2 separate regions of the Homo sapiens genome follow, and region 1 is linked to region 2. The links come from fine-mapping of genetic effects on gene expression. Tissue or cell type: lymphoblastoid cells. Region 2 holds a variant in brackets; the other region holds the start of a gene. All regions are shown on one strand. Distances are between the middles of the regions.

Evidence for each region. PIP is the estimated chance that this variant, and not a neighbour inherited with it, causes the effect.
Region 1: FAM149B1 starts here. The variant in region 2 is fine-mapped to the expression of FAM149B1 in lymphoblastoid cells (GTEx, PIP 0.93).

Annotation. Positions count from the first base shown.
Region 1 is chr10:73,164,180-73,172,471 of GRCh38, reverse strand. It overlaps FAM149B1 (family with sequence similarity 149 member B1), which reads right to left and starts at 4,353. Exons shown (of 14, transcript NM_173348.2): 1 at 4,086-4,353. The coding sequence starts at 4,132. ECD (ecdysoneless cell cycle regulator) reads left to right here and starts at 4,464. Exons shown (of 14, transcript NM_007265.3): 1 at 4,464-4,606. RefSeq lists enhancers at 2,847-3,445, 4,340-4,539, 4,046-4,645 and a silencer at 4,100-4,289.
Region 2 is chr10:73,014,091-73,022,382 of GRCh38, reverse strand. P4HA1 (prolyl 4-hydroxylase subunit alpha 1) reads left to right here. Exons shown (of 15, transcript NM_001017962.3): 11 at 5,484-5,537; 12 at 8,094-8,159. Among named protein-coding and RNA genes, the nearest start is that of PLA2G12B, 63 kb to the right of the region's middle. RefSeq lists an enhancer at 3,505-4,064. The variant T/G (reference allele first, on the strand shown) is at 3,335.

The DNA.
Region 1 (8,292 bases), 150 kb before region 2:
AGAGGGATTAAGTAACCTGCTTAAGGTCATTTGGTTAGTAAGCGATGAAGCCAAGATTCAAATCCTAGTAATCTGGCTCTCAGAGGAAGGCCTCTAGAAGGAAATGAAGAGTTTGAGATTTTAGTGAATTGTACCATTGTTCTATATAAAGATAAAGCTAAGAGCCCAGTCAGTGGAGCTTGCACTTTAAATTATTTCTCAAATTGTGGAGATCAATTTGTGCAGACTTACCTGTATGTCTCTCATTCAGTGGTCCTACAACCAAGAGCTTGTCTTTGAAAAAGTGGAAAGGATAAGAAATACAAATTCAAGCTATGAAATAGAGACTTAAGACATTTTTTAGTCTGCCAGGGAAATCTATGAATTGACAATTAGATAACAAAAAATATCATTAAATTTAATAATGGCACTATGACTACATACAAAAATGTCCATAATTTTTAGAGATGCATAATGACATATATAGGGGTGAAATGGCAGTATCTGCAGTTTTGCTTTCGTTATTTCACAGAGAGGTGCAGAGAAGTTAATAAAAGGATAAGGAGGCCAGGTGCGGTGGCTCACGCCTGTAATCCCAGCACTTTGGGAGGCTGAGGCAGGCAGATCACGAGGTCAGGAGATCGAGACCATCCTGGTTAACACGGTGAAACCCCGTCTCTACTAAAAATACAAAAAATTAGCTGGGCATGGTGGCGGGCACCTGTAGTCCCAGCTACTCGGGAGGCTGAGGCAGAAGAATGGCGTGAACCTGGGAGGCGGAGCTTGCAGTGAGCCGAGATGGCACTACTACACTCCAGCCTGGGCGACAGAGTGAGACTCTGTCTCAAAAAAAAAAAAAAAAGAAAGAAAAGGATAAGGAAGATAGATGAAGCAAATATATTAACTTTGTTAACTGTTGAATGTGGGGTGACAGGTAGTGCATGATACTATTCTCTATATGTTTATGTTTGAAATTTTTCATTAAAAAATGTTAAGCTGTATGTTGAAAATCATTCCTTTCCCATACTCTTTTCAACAATTATAATTTTTAATGGCTAGGTAGAAAACTAAAGTTACGGCTTCAAAGCAGGTTATCATTATTATAACATCTAAAGTAAAAATTGCTTTGAATTTGCTCCCATTAAGATACATTTTATCTTCATTATCTTCATTATTCACTTCATCCTGACTCCAGCTACAGAATCATCTTTTGGGCCTTATAGGGAGTATCAAATCAACAATCAAGAACAAGTAGGCCAGGCGCGGTGGCTCACATCTATAATCCCAGCACTTTGGGAGACCGAGGCAGACAGAGTCCAGGAGTTCAAGACCAGCCTGGGGTGAAACCCCATCTCTACTAAAAATACAAAAATTAGCTGGGCATGTAGTCCTGTGACTTGGGAAGCTGAGGTGGAAGAATCACTTGAACCTAGGAGGTGGAGGTTGCAACTGAGCCAAGATGGCACCACTGCACTCCAACCTGTGCAACAGAGACTCCGTCTCAAAAAAAAAAAAAATAGAAAGAAAACTGATACAACTATACTAGTTAATAATAATTCTGGCCCAACAAGTGCCTATCATTTTTTTCCATACAAGATTTTTTTTAACTTTCAGAATGGTTGGAATTAATCATAAAAGCAGATTTTTAGCTAAACCTCAGTCACTTTATTGGGAAAAGACAGTTTCCTCACAATTTTTTTTTTAAGTAGGAACAACACATCCCAAATCTAAGAGATGACTGTTTCTTCTTCCTAGTTCCCAAAGAGTTTACTAGGAACTAAACTGCTACCATGTAGATATCTTATTCCTTAATAAATAATAAGCTTCTAAAAGGCAAAGAGAGGTTTTAGACTTATTTTCTTTGTATGCCTATTGTATCCCAAGTAAAAGTGCGAAGGGACAAGGAAAATACCATTTATTGAGGATGTATATGTGTCAAGCTCCACACCATCACTTTATTCTTATTTTTATTTATTTATTTATTTATTTGAGACAGAGTCTTCCTCTGTCACCCAGGCTGGAGTACAGTGGTGTGATCTCGGCTCACGGCAACCTCCGCCTCCCAGGTTCAAGCAATTCTCATGCCTCGGCCTCCCAAGTAGCTGAGATTACAGGCATGTGCCACCATGCCCAGCTAATTTTTTGCATTTTTAGTAGAGACAGGGTTTCACCATGTTGCCCAGGCTGGTTTTGAACTCCTGAGCTCAGGCAATCGCCCACCTTGGCCTCCCAAAGTGCTAGGATTACAGGTGTGGGGGTCCACACCATCATTTTAAATAAGCTTTTGGATAAGGTGTTACTCCTATATTGCAGAAACGAAGGCTCAGTGATGTAGTAATTTGCCTAAAAGTCACGTGGCTAGAAGACAGCCTAGCCAGAAACCCAAGAATGATTCAAAATAGCATGCTTGCAATTATCATGTATGTGCATAATTAATATTTAATAAATTAAATAGTTAATAATTAATATTAATAGTTAATATATTTATGGTTGCTAAAATTACATAGCTAAATGAAAGGAAAAGTTAATATTTAATTAATAAATTTATGGTTGCTAAAATTATATAGCTCCATGAAGGAAAAAAAATTGGAATTTGGGGTTAAAGCCCAAGCTCAACTCCTGACTTTTTGGCTATATAATCTTAAAATATGTAACATTTCTGATATAATTTCATCTTCTGAAAGACTGAAGATAATCATACCCACTTTACAGAGTTGTTAAGATCAAAAAGTGAAGTGAGCTGGGCATGGTGGCTCACGCCAACACTTTGGGAGGCCAAAGTGGGAGAACCGCTTGAGTCCAGGAGTTTGAGACCAGCCTGGGCAACATAGTGGGACCCTGTCTCTACCAAAAAAAAATTTTTTTTTAATTAGCCAGTTGTGGTGGTGTGCACCTGTAGTCTCAGCTACTCAAGAGGCTACATTGTGAGGATCACCTGAGCCCATAGGTGGAGGCTGCAGTGAGCAAGGATTGCACTACTGCCCTCCAGCCTGGACAACTGAGCAAGACCCTGTCTCCAAAAAAAAAAAAAAAGTGAAGGCCCTTTTGGAAGTGTAAAGCATTAATAAATGTATGACACTATTATTACTTTCTAAATTATTATACACCACTTCGGTCAGGGTAGGGGGCAGCTCTTTTTATTTTTTTATTATTTATTTATTTATTTTGAGACGGAGTTTCACTCTTGTCACCCAGACTGGAGTGCGATGGCGTGACCTCTGCTCACTGCAACCTCTGCCTCCCGGGTTCAAGTGATTCTCCTGCCTCATCCTCCCAAGTAGCTGGGTTTACAGGCCCCCGCCTCCATGCCCGGCCATTTTTTTTTTTTTTTTTGCATTTTTAGTAGAGATGGGGTTTCGCCATGTTGGCCAGGCTGGTCTCGAACTCCTGGCCTCAAGTGATCCGCCCGCCTCAGCCTCCCAAAGTGCTGGGATTACAAGCGTGAGCCACCACGGCCGGCCGTGAGGGTGGATCTTTTTAAAGCCAGAAATATTTGCTCTTTAAAGTCTCAAAAGCAAAACTGATCTTTATGGATTCTGGTGCTTAATTGCAGAGGTGGGGAGGCAGTATGTGTGATGGTTATGACCACAGGCTTCGGAATCAGATCGACATCAGGTTTGTACCTCTCAGCTCTACCACCTTCAAGCTGTGTGATCTTTGGCATGCTACAATCTTTAATTCTGGGATCTTTATCTGTAGAATGTGCAAAATAATGTTCCCAATCTGATATCATTGATAGGAATGAGCAAATGTATGTAAATAGCTTTGCACAGTGTCAAGTGAGCACTTTCCTGGAGCCCTCAGTTAGCTATTAATAACTTCTCGAGCTACCATGGCCATTAACAATGGGACCTGAAGCACTGCGGATGCTACAAATGCTTCAGCAGACCCAGTGCTTGATTTCAGGAATTTCAGACGAAGGGCGACACGCCCTCAGCTGGAGATGGAGGAAGAAGGGGCAGGGTCCAGCAGGGCTGAGAGGAGAGAATTCCGAAGAAAAATCTCTCCCCAGCCCTGGGAAAGGAAAGGAACGAAGGACTGGTCAAGGAGGGTCCCCAGAGCGCCCGCCGCCCGCCCCGGCTGGGGTGGCTGAGCAGTCCACTCACAGCTCCAAGCTCTGTGGCACCGCCTTCCGAGTGTATCTGGAGATCATCCTCCTCCTCCTCCTCCTCCTCCTCCTCCTCAGCCGCGGCCGGGGCAGGCACGCCAGGGTGGGGGCCTCCGGGCCTGGCCCTCCCGCCGGCTCCGGCCCGGCCCCTCCCGCCACCTACCGGCCCCGTCTCGCCCCGTCACCTAGACTCCGAGCAGCCACCTCCCCAGGGTCCCCACCTCTCCAGTCCTCCGACCTCCCTGCTTTGCCGCGGGGGCGGAAGTGACGAAGGCCCCCGGACACTCGCAAAATGCTCCCGCCGACGCACAGCAGTGACGACACACAAGGTTTCGGGGACTGAGTGGGTTTCAGACTTTCTCTCAGGATTTCCGCTGGCTTCAGGTTCCGGTCAGGCGTCGGGACAGAGCCTGATCCAGGCTTCGGCGGCCGGTGGCAGCTCTCGATCAGCTCTCGCAGTCGGAGAGGCGGCTAAGGAAAGGTGCCACAGCAGAGACGCGAAGGAGAGGCCCTAGAACCGTAAGAGAAATTGGCTTCATTTTGTTAGATGGCAGGAGGGAGCCTAGACTGGGGAAAGAGCACTAGACTCCAAGTCAAGCCCCTGCTGCTTGGTCGCTTCTTTTTCTGTACTCTGGGTTTTCTCATATGTACAGTGAGGTATTAGCCTGAGTGATCATAGAGTCCCTTCCAGTTCTGACACCAAATTCTGCATGATGACGTGTGTTTGGCGTTATGGGGTGGATGGGTAAAATTACTGTCTGTCCCTCTGGGTTGAAAGGCAAAATGATGATTTGGTTAGACTGTGGTGAGTGGGTGTCTGGATAAGAAGAAGCAGGTTCCTTACGAGTCTCTTAGAAAGCTGAGTAAGATTGGAATCATGGAGTTAGGGTGGTCCATCCACCGCCATTTCTTTCTTTACCAAGCATCACCTGGCAGCAAGAATAAACTAGTACTCTTATTTAGGAAAACCCTTAGAAAATTAAGAGATAAGGAAAACCCTTAGAAAATTAAGAGGTATCAATGCAACCTCCATCAAAATACCAGTGACATTCTTCACAGTCATAGAAAAAAGATCCTAAAATTTATATGGAACCACAAAAGAGCCAGAATAGCCAAAGCTATCCTGAGCAAAAAGAACAAAACTGGAAGCATCACATTACCCGACTTCAGATTATACAACAGAGTTATAGTAACCAAAACAGCATGGCACTGGCATAAAAACAGGAACAGAATAGAGAACCCAGAAACAAATCCATATGTCTGCAGTGAATTCATTTTCAGCAAAGGTACCAAAAACATACATTGGGGAAAAGACAGTCTCTTCAATAAATGATACTGGGAAAACTGATACCCGTATGCAGAAGAATGAAACCAGACCCACTACCTCCCACCATATACAAAAATCAAGTCAAAATGGATTAGAGACTTAAATCTAAGCCCTCAAACTATGAAACTACTAAAAGGAAATATTGGGGAAACTCTCTAGGACATTAGAGTGGGCAAAGATTTCCTGAGTAATACCTCACAAACAGAGGCAGCCAAAACAAAAATGGACAAATGGGAGCACATCAAGTTAAAAAGCTTCTGCACAGCAAAGGAAACAATCAACAAAGTGGAGAGAGAACCCACAGAATGGGAGAAAATATTTGCAAACTACCCATCTGACAAGGGATTAATAACCAAAATATATAAGGAGTTCAAACAACTCTCTAGGAAGCAGTCTAATAATTGATTAAGAATTGGATAAAAACTCTGAATAGACATTTCTCAAAGAAGACATAAAAATGGCAAACAGGTTTATGAAAAGGTGCTCAATATCATTGATTATCAGAGAAATGCAAATCAAAACTACAATAAGATAGCATCTCACCCCAGTTAAAATGGCTGTTATCCATAAGACAGGCAATAACAAATGCTGGCAAGGATTTGGATAAAACACTGTTGGTGAGAATGTAAATTAGTGCAGTCACTATGGAGAACAGTTTTGGAGATTCCTCAAGAAACTAAAAATAGAGCTACTATATGATCCAGCAGTCCCACTGTTGGGTATTTACCCAAAAGAAAGGAAATCAGTATATCAAAGAGATATCTGCACTCCCATGTTTATCGCAGCACTATTCTCAGTAGCCAAGATTTGGAAGCAACCTAAGTGTCCATCAACAGATAATGAAGAAAATGTGGCACATACACACAATGGAGTGCTTTTCAGCCATAAAAAAAAAAATGAGATTCTGTTATTTGTAACAACATGGATGGAACTGAAGATCAAGTGGAACTGGATGGAAGTGAAATAAGGATGGCACAGAAAGATAAACTTCAAATGTTCTCACTAATTTGTAGGAGCTAAAAATTAAAACAGTTGAACTCATGGAGATAGCAAGTAGAAGGATGGTTTACCAGAAGCTGGGAAGGGTTGCAGAGGGTTTGTGGGGGAGTATGGTTAAAGGGTACAAAAAAAATAGAGTGAATGAAAACTAGTATTTGGTAGCACAACAGGGTGACTATAGTAAATAATAATTTAATTGTACATTTAAAAATAACGAAGTTCAGATGAGAGCATGTCCTGGCTATAAAAATTTTTTTAATAAAAATAACTAAAAGAGTATAATTAGAGTGTTTGTAACACAAAGGATAAATGCTTAAGGCAATGGATATCTCATTTACCCTGAGGTGCTTATTATGCATTGTATACCTGTATCAAAATATCTCATGTACCCCATAAATATATACACCTACTATTTACCCTTAAAAATTAAAAAAAAAAAACAGCACTTTGGGAGGCCGAGGCAGGTGGATCATGAGGTCAGGAGTTTGAGACCAGCCTGGCCAATATGGTAAAACCCCGTCTCTACTAAAAATACAAAAATTAGCCAGGTGTGGTGGCGTGCGCCTATAGTCCCAGCTACTCGGGAGGCTGAGGCAAAAGAATCGCTTGAACCTGGGAGGCAGAGGTTGCAGTGAGCTGCGATCACTCCACTGCACTCCAGCCTGGGCGACAGAGCGAGACTCCATCTCAAAAAAAAAAGAAAAGAAAAAGAAAAGAAAAAAAGAAAAGAAAGATATACCTACCATCCCATGAGACTTGAAAAAGGGGCAAATTTAGGACAGAGGTAAAATGACAGGACATGAATGTTTTGTAGTTCTGAATTCCTCTACGCCATACAATGTTCATAAAAGAGAGAGATGTACATTCTGTAGAGCAAGACAGATTGTACTTTAGAGTTTAAATAACAAAATTTTAAAGCAGGGAGAGATTTTAGAGATGGTAGATAACTTATCCTAAATTAAAGAAAAAAACCCAGAAAGAGAAAGTGAAATGTCCATAGTGGCACAACTAATTAGTGGCAGAACTGGGGTTTTTGATAGTATGTAAACAGTAGGTGTTAGTGCAGTGTTTCTCGAAATATATTACACATACCACTGCTAGTACAAGGGCAAACATTAAAAATTTCATTCTTCACTTCCAAAATAGGAAAAATATAAAAAGTAAAGATTTTATTCTTACATACTTACTAATTGGGGAATGTGATACTAGATTTCTATTCACTGTATTATATCAAGGTTTCCTTTTAACGTAATTTTAAAGATAAAGTTTTAAGTGTAAAGGGTCATTAAAAATAATATTAGGCCAGATGCCTATAACCCCAGCACTTTGGGAGACCAAGGTGGAAGAACTGCTTGAGCTCAGAAGTTCTAGGCCAGCCTGGGCAATATGGCAAAACCTTGCCTCTACTAAAAATACAAAAAAAGTTAGCTGGGCATGGTGGCATGCACCTGTGGTCCCAGCTACTTGGGAGGCTGAGGTGGGAGGATGGCTTGAGCCCAAGAGGTGGAGGTTGCAATGAGCTGTGATCATGCCGCTGCACTCCAGCCTGGGCAACAAGAGTGAAACTCCATCTCAAATAAATAAATAAAGTTTAAAAAAATTAAATAAATATTACTGTAGGTGGTGTATGGTTAAGGCCAAAACCATGGTGATGGTATGTGACTAAATTTTATTTTTTTATTTTTTATTTTTATTTATTTTTTTTTTTAGTTGGAGTCTTGCTCTGTCACCCAAGCTGGAGTGCAGTGGCATGATCTCGGCTCATTGCAACCTCTGCCTCCTAGGTTCAAGTGATTCTCCTGCTTTAGCCTCCCAAGTAGCTAGGATCACAGGTGCATGCCACCACACCCAGCTAATTTTTGTATTTTTAGTATTTTGT
Region 2 (8,292 bases):
AGTTTGCTGGAGGTCCATTCCAGACGCTGTTTGCCTGGGTATCACCAGCAGAGGATGCAGAACAGCAAATATTGCTGCCTGATCCTTCCTCTGGAAGCTTCATCCCAGAGGGGCACCCGCCTGTATGAGGTGTCTGTCGGCCCCTACTGGGAGGTTTCCCCCAGTTAGGCTACACGGGGGTCAGGGACCCTCTTGAGGAGGCAGTCTTTGGTTCTCAGAGCTCAAATGCCATCCTGGGAGAACCACTGCTCTCTTCAGAGCTGTCAGACAGGGACGTTTAAGTCTGCAGAAGTTGTCTGCTGGCTTTTGTTCAGCTATGCCCTGCCCACAGAGGTGGAGTCTACAGAGGCAGTAGGCCTTGCTGAGCTGTGGTGGGCTCCGCCCAGTTTGAGCTTTCTGGCCATTTTGTTTACCTAATCAAGCCTCAGCAATGGTGGACACCCCTCCTCCAGCCAGGCTGCAACCTCTCAGGTCCATCTCAGACTGCTGCACTAGCAGTGAGCAAGGCTCCATGGGCATGGGACCCACTGAGCCAGGCACAGGAAAGAATCTCCTGGTCTGCCAGTTGCTAAGACTGTGGGAAAAGCGCAGTATGTGGGCAGGATTGTCCGGTTTTTCCAGGTACAGTCTGTCATGGCTTCCCTTTGCTAGGAAAGGGAAATTCCCTGACTCCTTGTGCTTCCTGGGTGAGGCGATGCCCCGCCCTGCTTTGGCTCATTCTCTATGGTCTGCACCCACTGTCCAACCAGTCCCAATGAGATGAACCAGGTACCTCAGTTGGAAATGCAGAAATCCCACATGTGAGTGAGAACATGTGATATTTGTCTATGCTGGGCTTATTTTACTAATATAATGAACTCCAGTTCCATCCATGTGATAAGATTACATTCTTCTTATGGCTGAATAGTGTTTCATTATATATAAGCACCACATTTTCTTTATCCATTCATCTGTTGATGGACACTTAGGTTGATTCCATATGTTAGCTGTTGTGAATAGTCCTGCAATAAACATGGGAATGCGGATATCTCTTCATCATGCTAATTTCCTTTCTTTTGGATATATACTTGGCACTGGGATTGCTGGATCATATGGTAGATCTATTTTTAGTTTTTAAGGGAACCTCTGTACTGTTCTCCATAGTGATTGTACTAATTTACATTCCCACCAGCAGTGTATGAGCATGCCCCTTTCTCTTCATCCTTGCCAGTGTCTGTTATTTTTGGGTTTTTTTGTTTGTTTTTTCTTGAGATGTAGTCTTACTCTCTTGCCCAGGCTGGAGTGCAGTGGTGTGATCTTGGCTCACTGCAACCTCCACCTCCTGGGTTAATGCAGTTCTCCTGCCTCAGCCTCCTGTGTAACTGGGATTACAGGCCCCTGCCACCATGCCCAGCTAATTTTTATATTTTTAGTAGAGACAGGGTTTTACCATGTTGGCCAGGCTGGTCTCGTACTCCTGACCTCAGGTGATCCATCCACTTTGGCCTCCCAAAGTGCTGGAATTACAGGTGTGAGCCACTGTGCCTGGCCAGGATGCTGAATTTTTTTGAAAGCTTTTTCTGCATTTGCAGAGATGATCATATGGTTTTTAATTCTGTTTATGTGGTGAATTACATTTATTGAACCAACCTTGCACCCCACAAATAAAGCCTAATTGATTATAGTAAATTAACTTTTTGATGTGCTGCTAGGTTTTGTTTTCTAGTATTTTTTTGAGTATTTTGTGTCTGTGTTCATCAGGAATATCAGCCTGAAGTTTTCTTTTTTCATTATGTCTGTGATGAGTTTTGGTATCAGAATGATGATGCTGGCTTCATAAAATGAGTTAAGGAAAGATTCGTTCTCAATCTTTTGGAATAATTTCAGTAGGATTGATACTAGCTCTTTGTATGTCTGGTAAAATTCAGCTGTGAATCCATCCAGTCCAGAGCTTTTTTTGGTTAGTAGGTTGTTTTTTTGTTTTTTTGTTTTTAATTAAAATTGAATTTCAATTTCAGAATTCCTTATTGGTCTGTTCAGGGTTTCAGTTTTTTTCTGTTTCAGTCTTGGGAGGTTGTGTGTTTCCAGGAATTTATCCATTTCTTCTAGGTTTTTTATAAAAGTTTGTGTGCATAGAGGTGTTCATAATAATCTCTGAGGACTTTTTATATTTCTTTGGGGTCAGTTGTAATGTCACCTTTGTTATTTCTGATTGTGCTTATTTGGATCTTTTTTCTTTGTTAATCTAGCTATCTTGCTGTTTCTAGAATTCTTTATTTGTCTTTGATGTTTGACAATCTGACTGAAATGTGCTTCAGAGGGGACTTTTTTTGGTTGAATCTATTTGGGGACTTTTGAACTTCCTGGAGTTGGATACCCTTATCTCTTCCCCAGACTTGGGTAGTTTTCAGCTATTATTAAATAGGTTTTCTGTGCCTTTTACCTTTCTTCTCCTTTTGGAACTCCTGTAATACAAATGTTTAATGGTGTCCCAGAAGTCTTGTAGGCTCTCTTTATCCTTTTTCATTATTGTTTCCTTTTTTTTTCCCCTCTGAGTAATATTAAATAATGTATCTTCAGGTTCAGAGATTGTTTTGCTTAATCAAGTGTGCTGGTGCAGCTTTGTATTGTATTTTTAATTTCATTCATTGAATTCTTTTTTTTTTTTTTTTTCTGAGACAGAGTCTCGCTCTGTCGCCACGCTGGAGTGCAGTGGCAAGATCTTGGCTCACTGCAACCTCCGCCTCCCAGGTTCAAGCGATTCTCCTGCCTCAGCCTCCTGCATTCATTGAATTCTTCAGCTGCAAGTGTTTTGTTTGGTTCTTTTTTATGATATCTTTCTTTGTTGAAATTCTGATTCATATCATGAATTGTTTTCCTGATTTCATTGAATTATCTATCTGTATTTTCTTTTATCTGTTTGAGTTTCCTTAAGATCATTATTTGAATTTTTTTCTAGCTAGGTGTTGATTTCCTTTACATTTGGGCCTGTAACTAGAGAGTTACATTCTCAGCAGTGTCATATTTCATTGCTTTTTAATGTTTCTTGTTTCCTGCATTGATGTCTGTGCATCTAGTGGAACAATTGGCTCTTTTAAACTTTCCGCTTCTGTTGGGCTGTTTGGGAAGGGTGTGGTGACTCTGTTTCCAGGTAGGTTCAGTACTGTAGTCTCTTATAGCCTATTCAGCTGCATTCATTGTCAGAATAACTGTGGGTGCCTCAACAGCCTAGGCTGGAGAAGTTTGCAGTGGTGGTAGCTGTGGAGTAGATTGTTAATATCTTCAGTGGCAAGAGCTTTTGGAATCCTTCCATTCTTGTTTTCCCCACAATAGGGAGTTTTAGCCAGTGGGAGTC[T/G]TCTTGGTGGCAGGTCTTACATATCCTACAAGCAGCTGCCATGGTGCTGCAATCCAGGTGCAAGCGTTTGGAGTGGCTATGGGGCTAGGATCCTGGGCTCAGGGTCTTGCATACTATTGTAACACCTGGGTGTTAGGGTACAGGGTCACTATTGGCAGGGTTGGATGTAGGTTGCCTATAGTGCCAGGATCTGTGACTCTGAGGCACCCTCTAGCTGCTTGGGAAAAGAGTGTCAGGTTGTAGCTGTGAGTCTACCCCTGGTGGACAGGGCACAGCCCTGGCCCAACTCCAGGGAAGAGAGGATGCTCTGGAGGTTTGAGTCTGGGATGCAGGGTTTGGCTCTATTAGGAGCCTGAGCCAATAGGGCTTAGTGGCAACTCCTATCCCTGGGGATGAGGCACCATGATGAGGTGCCCTGGATGAGGCACCAGGTTCTAGTAGTCACTCTAGAACCTGGATTGGTGGAGCTCAGATGGATCCCAGACTCTGAGGCCAGGTACAGCAGGAACAGGCACCCCTGAATGGCCAAGCATGCCTGTTGTTTGGGCCCTGTGGGGCAGAGAGCAGCACAGCAATGACTTCACTCCCTAGAAAGAGAAGTGTCTCAGCAGCGCAGACTCTCCAGGGAAGCAGGGTACTAGAGTTATTTGCCCTGCAGGGCACATTTCTCAGCTTAGCCACTGCTCTGTTTCCCTGGGTCTCTGGGTACTACTTCAGCCCTGGGATGTGCAGCTGCTCAGCTTGGCCAGTGCAACAATTCCCCAAGGGTGATGTGCTGTTTCAGCTCAGGCTCAGGGGACGTGACTGTTCTGGGTGGCCCAGACATCTCATGGGATGCAGGGTTCTGCCAAAGTACTATTTTCTTGGGAGGGAGTACATGGCTGCAGCTCCTGCCTCAGGGAGTTGGGGGAGGGGTGGGTAGAGCAGTTCCACCTCTCTTGACCCCACCAGGAAGGGTGTAACAGCTGCTGGCAGCTCTGCTTGGGAATGTCAGGCCTTCAAGTAGGCCTTCATTCCTGGCTTAGCTTCAGGGATGAAGGGGTGCTGTGGCTACTGGCCCCAGAGCAAGACACACTCCAGCAGTTCCAGTTCCACCAGTATTCTCCTTCTGGTTTCATCAGCAGCACTCTTAATTATGTTCTCCTTTGATTTTGTCAGCATTTTATTGTGTTGTGTGATTGAGGGAAAGAGTTAAGTATCATTCTCTTCACTTTAACAAATAAGAAAACTGAGATGATATCCAAAGTTACATTGTAATTAAGAGAGCTGGAACTTGAACTCAGACCAAATATTTTTCTTAAATTTTGGTGCGTCACACTGGGACATTGTCGTAAGCAACTGAAGTTGTTAGGGCCCTTCGACAGGAATAATTAAATTGGTGTTAATTTCTTTCCTTTTTTAGCAGGGAAAAAATATGTAAGAAAAGATATTTTATTAAAGTGGATTGCGAGTTCAGCATTTGGGGCTTTGGAAAACATTTTTTGATTTAAGTTCCAAAGGAAAGTGTTTAGTGAAACAAAATAATAGAAATCTCAAATTTTAGCTTATGTATTAAATTTTTAAAAATTAGCTGGGTGTGGTAGCATGCACCTGTAGTCCCAGCTACTCAGGAGGCTGAAGTGGGAGGATCACTTGTGCCCCAAAGGTTGAGGCTGCAGTGTGCTCTGATTGCATCACTGCACTCCAGCCTGTCTCTGGTGGGGGGTGGGGAGGGGTACATATGTAGATATAGATCTATATATATAGATATCTATATATGTAGATCTGTATAGAGATATAGATATCTATATATACATCTGTAGATATAGATATCTATATATACATCTGTAGATATAGATATCTATATATACATCTGTAGATATAGATATCTATATATACATCTGTAGATATAGATATCTATATATACATCTGTAGATATAGATATCTATATATACATCTGTAGATATAGATCTGTACATAGATATATAGTAGCTGTCCTTTGTTTTTCATCCCTGTTTTCATAGGAACTCTTGTTGATTTTAAATATTTTTCATTTCTCTGTAAATACCTGACCATGATCTATAAAAGTCCAAAAAATGAGGTTCATAGATTTTTTTTGAATAGTAATCTTTATAGTTCTTTTCTTTCATGCTTTGTGTCTTTCCTTCAGGTAGCAAATTATGGAGTTGGAGGACAGTATGAACCCCATTTTGACTTTGCACGGGTAAGTGAAAAAGAAATGGAGAAATTCACTGAGGCTTATGCATTACATTGTTTGTCTCAAAACAAAACAAAAAAACAGTCTCACTCTGTCACCCAGGCTGGAGTGCAGTAGCACGATCTTGGCTCACTGCAACCTCTGCCTCCTGGGTTGGAGCAATTCTCCTACCTCAGCCTCCCGAGTAGCTGGGATCACAGGCATGCGCCACCATGCCCAGCTAATTTTTGTATTTTTAGTAGCGACAGGGTTTCGCCATTTTGGCCAGGCTGGTCTTGAACTTCTGACCTCAGGTGATCCACCCACCTCAGCCTCCCAGAGTGCTGGGATTACAGGCGTGAGCCACTGTGCCCGGCCGCATTACATTGTTAAAGAAAAAGTTATTCTTGACACTTGTTAAAGATGGTAAGGCAGACTTCATTCAAGGGGGGACCATTGCGATAGGTATAGGGACCACTGCAAATGCAGTGGGATTTTGCAGTAAGGGAGAGAGGTTAAGCCCAATTCCAAATACAACAAGGAAAAGTGGGAATTTATAGCCAATGAGCAAGGGTGGGTGTTAGTAGATGGAAAATTACTAAGAGGTAAGGGAAGATTCTGGCTAAACTGACCTAACAGGATTCTTGCTGAAGTCAGGGAAGAGTGATCATCATCCAGGGGATAGTGGAAGATGAAGAACCCAGTTAGGTTTTGAGGGTGATCACATGGCAAGGACGGGGAATTCTGGCTAACCTGACTTAGCAGGGTTCTTGCTTAAATTGGACAATGCAGAGGTAAATACCAGAAGCCCAAAGTCAGGGCCTACTTGAGAAGAAAGTTCAGAGGAGCCTGAGTAGTTGGGTCAAGGAGAGATTCTTTGTCAACATGTTAATTCTGTTATTTTAACATTAAAAATTCATAGCCTATTTGGAATTTATGGAAATACGGTGTGGCAGATATTCTGTGAAACCTTTTTACCAGTTAAAAAAAAAAAACCAAACACCTAGATACCCAATAAAATCACTTAAGATACTTTAAATGCATTGGCAAGCCTGGAAGAAAGTAAAGGGTGTTCCAAAAGGCAAACTGAACAATGATCCCAAACTTAGAGAATTAAAGAGGGGACAAAACACAGAGGCTGGAGGTATGTGCCTCCAGGAACTAGAGCTTTGGGAATAACAGCTCTGTAAGAGGAGGATCTGCCACAGTGTAGGCTGCTGAATTTGAGACCCTGGCATAAACTCTAAATCTCCACAAGGATTACACCTTCAGTAAAGAAAGAATGGGTTTGAAAATAAATCTCTTGTGATACAGGAGCCTTATGGGGAACTGTCTGTTTCCATCCTGGCTGGGGCATAGTGTGTATGATAGGGGAGCTACTTCAGGGAGTACTATGTATGGAATTTTCCACTTGTGTCATGTTAGCACTAAAAGTTTTGAACTTCAGAGCATTTTGCATTTTGGACTTTTGGTATGCTCAACCTGTATTCCATGTTACGGATATACCACAGTTTAGCCATTCACCCATCGAAGGACATTTGGATAGTTTTTAGTTTTTGGCTATTACAAATAAAGATGTGTTTACATTTCTATGTGAAAAATGCATTTTCATTTTTCTGGGAGAAATGCCAAGAGGTTGTATTGTATTTTAATTTAGATATAAATATTTAGATATTAATTCTTTAGCTTGATTATAGTGCTGAAAGTCACTTTACTAGCATTATTAGAAAAATAATACTAGGGGCCAGGCGTGGTGGCTCATGCCTGTAATCCCAGCACTTTGGGAGGCCAAGGTGGGTGGATCACTTGAGGTCAGGAGTTCAAGACCAGTCTGGCCAACATGGTGAAACTCCATCTCTACTAAAAATACAAAAAAATTAGCCAGGCATGGTGGTACACGCCTGTAGCCCCAGCCACTTGGGAGGCTGAGGCAGAAGAATTGCTTAAACCCGGGAGGTGGAGGTTGCAATGAGCTGAGATCATGGCACTGCACTCCAGCCTGGGCGACAGGGCAAGACTCTGTCTCAAAAAAAAAAAAAAAGAAAAAAGAAAATAATACTAGGAAATATTTCAGTAGGTCGTGAGTTCAAAGTAAGTCTCAAGGTAAATTAAGCTTCAGGAGTATAGCTAAGAGATGGCTGTCAAGTCATATTTTTTAGAAGCTAAAATTGTGGGTATTTGTTTTTAAAATAATATGTAGCTTGCAGATAATGGCTGTCGTTTAGGCTAATAAGTCTGCTTTTTATCCAGTAATCTTGTCTAAAGTATCCAGTATACAAGTTCAGTCATCACGTATTTGAGGCCAGGTACAGTGGCTCACACCTGTGATCCTAGCATTTTGGGAGGCTAAGGCAGGAGGATCGCTTGAGGCCAGGAGTTCAAGATCACCCTGGTCCACATAGCAAGACTCCATCTTACAAAAAGATTGCCTGATGTTTATAGTGCACTGGACATTACAAGGGAAACTTTTGCGGTTGTTGTTGGCATATTCTTCAGGATATTACTACTGATGTTTAGTTGCCACTAGAGTATTTGTATTACTGAATTTTTACACCATTGAATTTACTGTGTTTTTATTCACAGAAAGATGAGCCAGATGCTTTCAAAGAGCTGGGGACAGGAAATAGAATTGCTACATGGCTGTTTTATGTAAGTCGTCACTAAAATTTTTAGATTAAGTTGGGATTTGATGACAAGATTCATTTTAATGTTTTAAGTTTGTTCTGTGTAGCTCTGATTCAGCATCCTAGTTTAACATTTTTACAACTGAATAAAGTGAGTT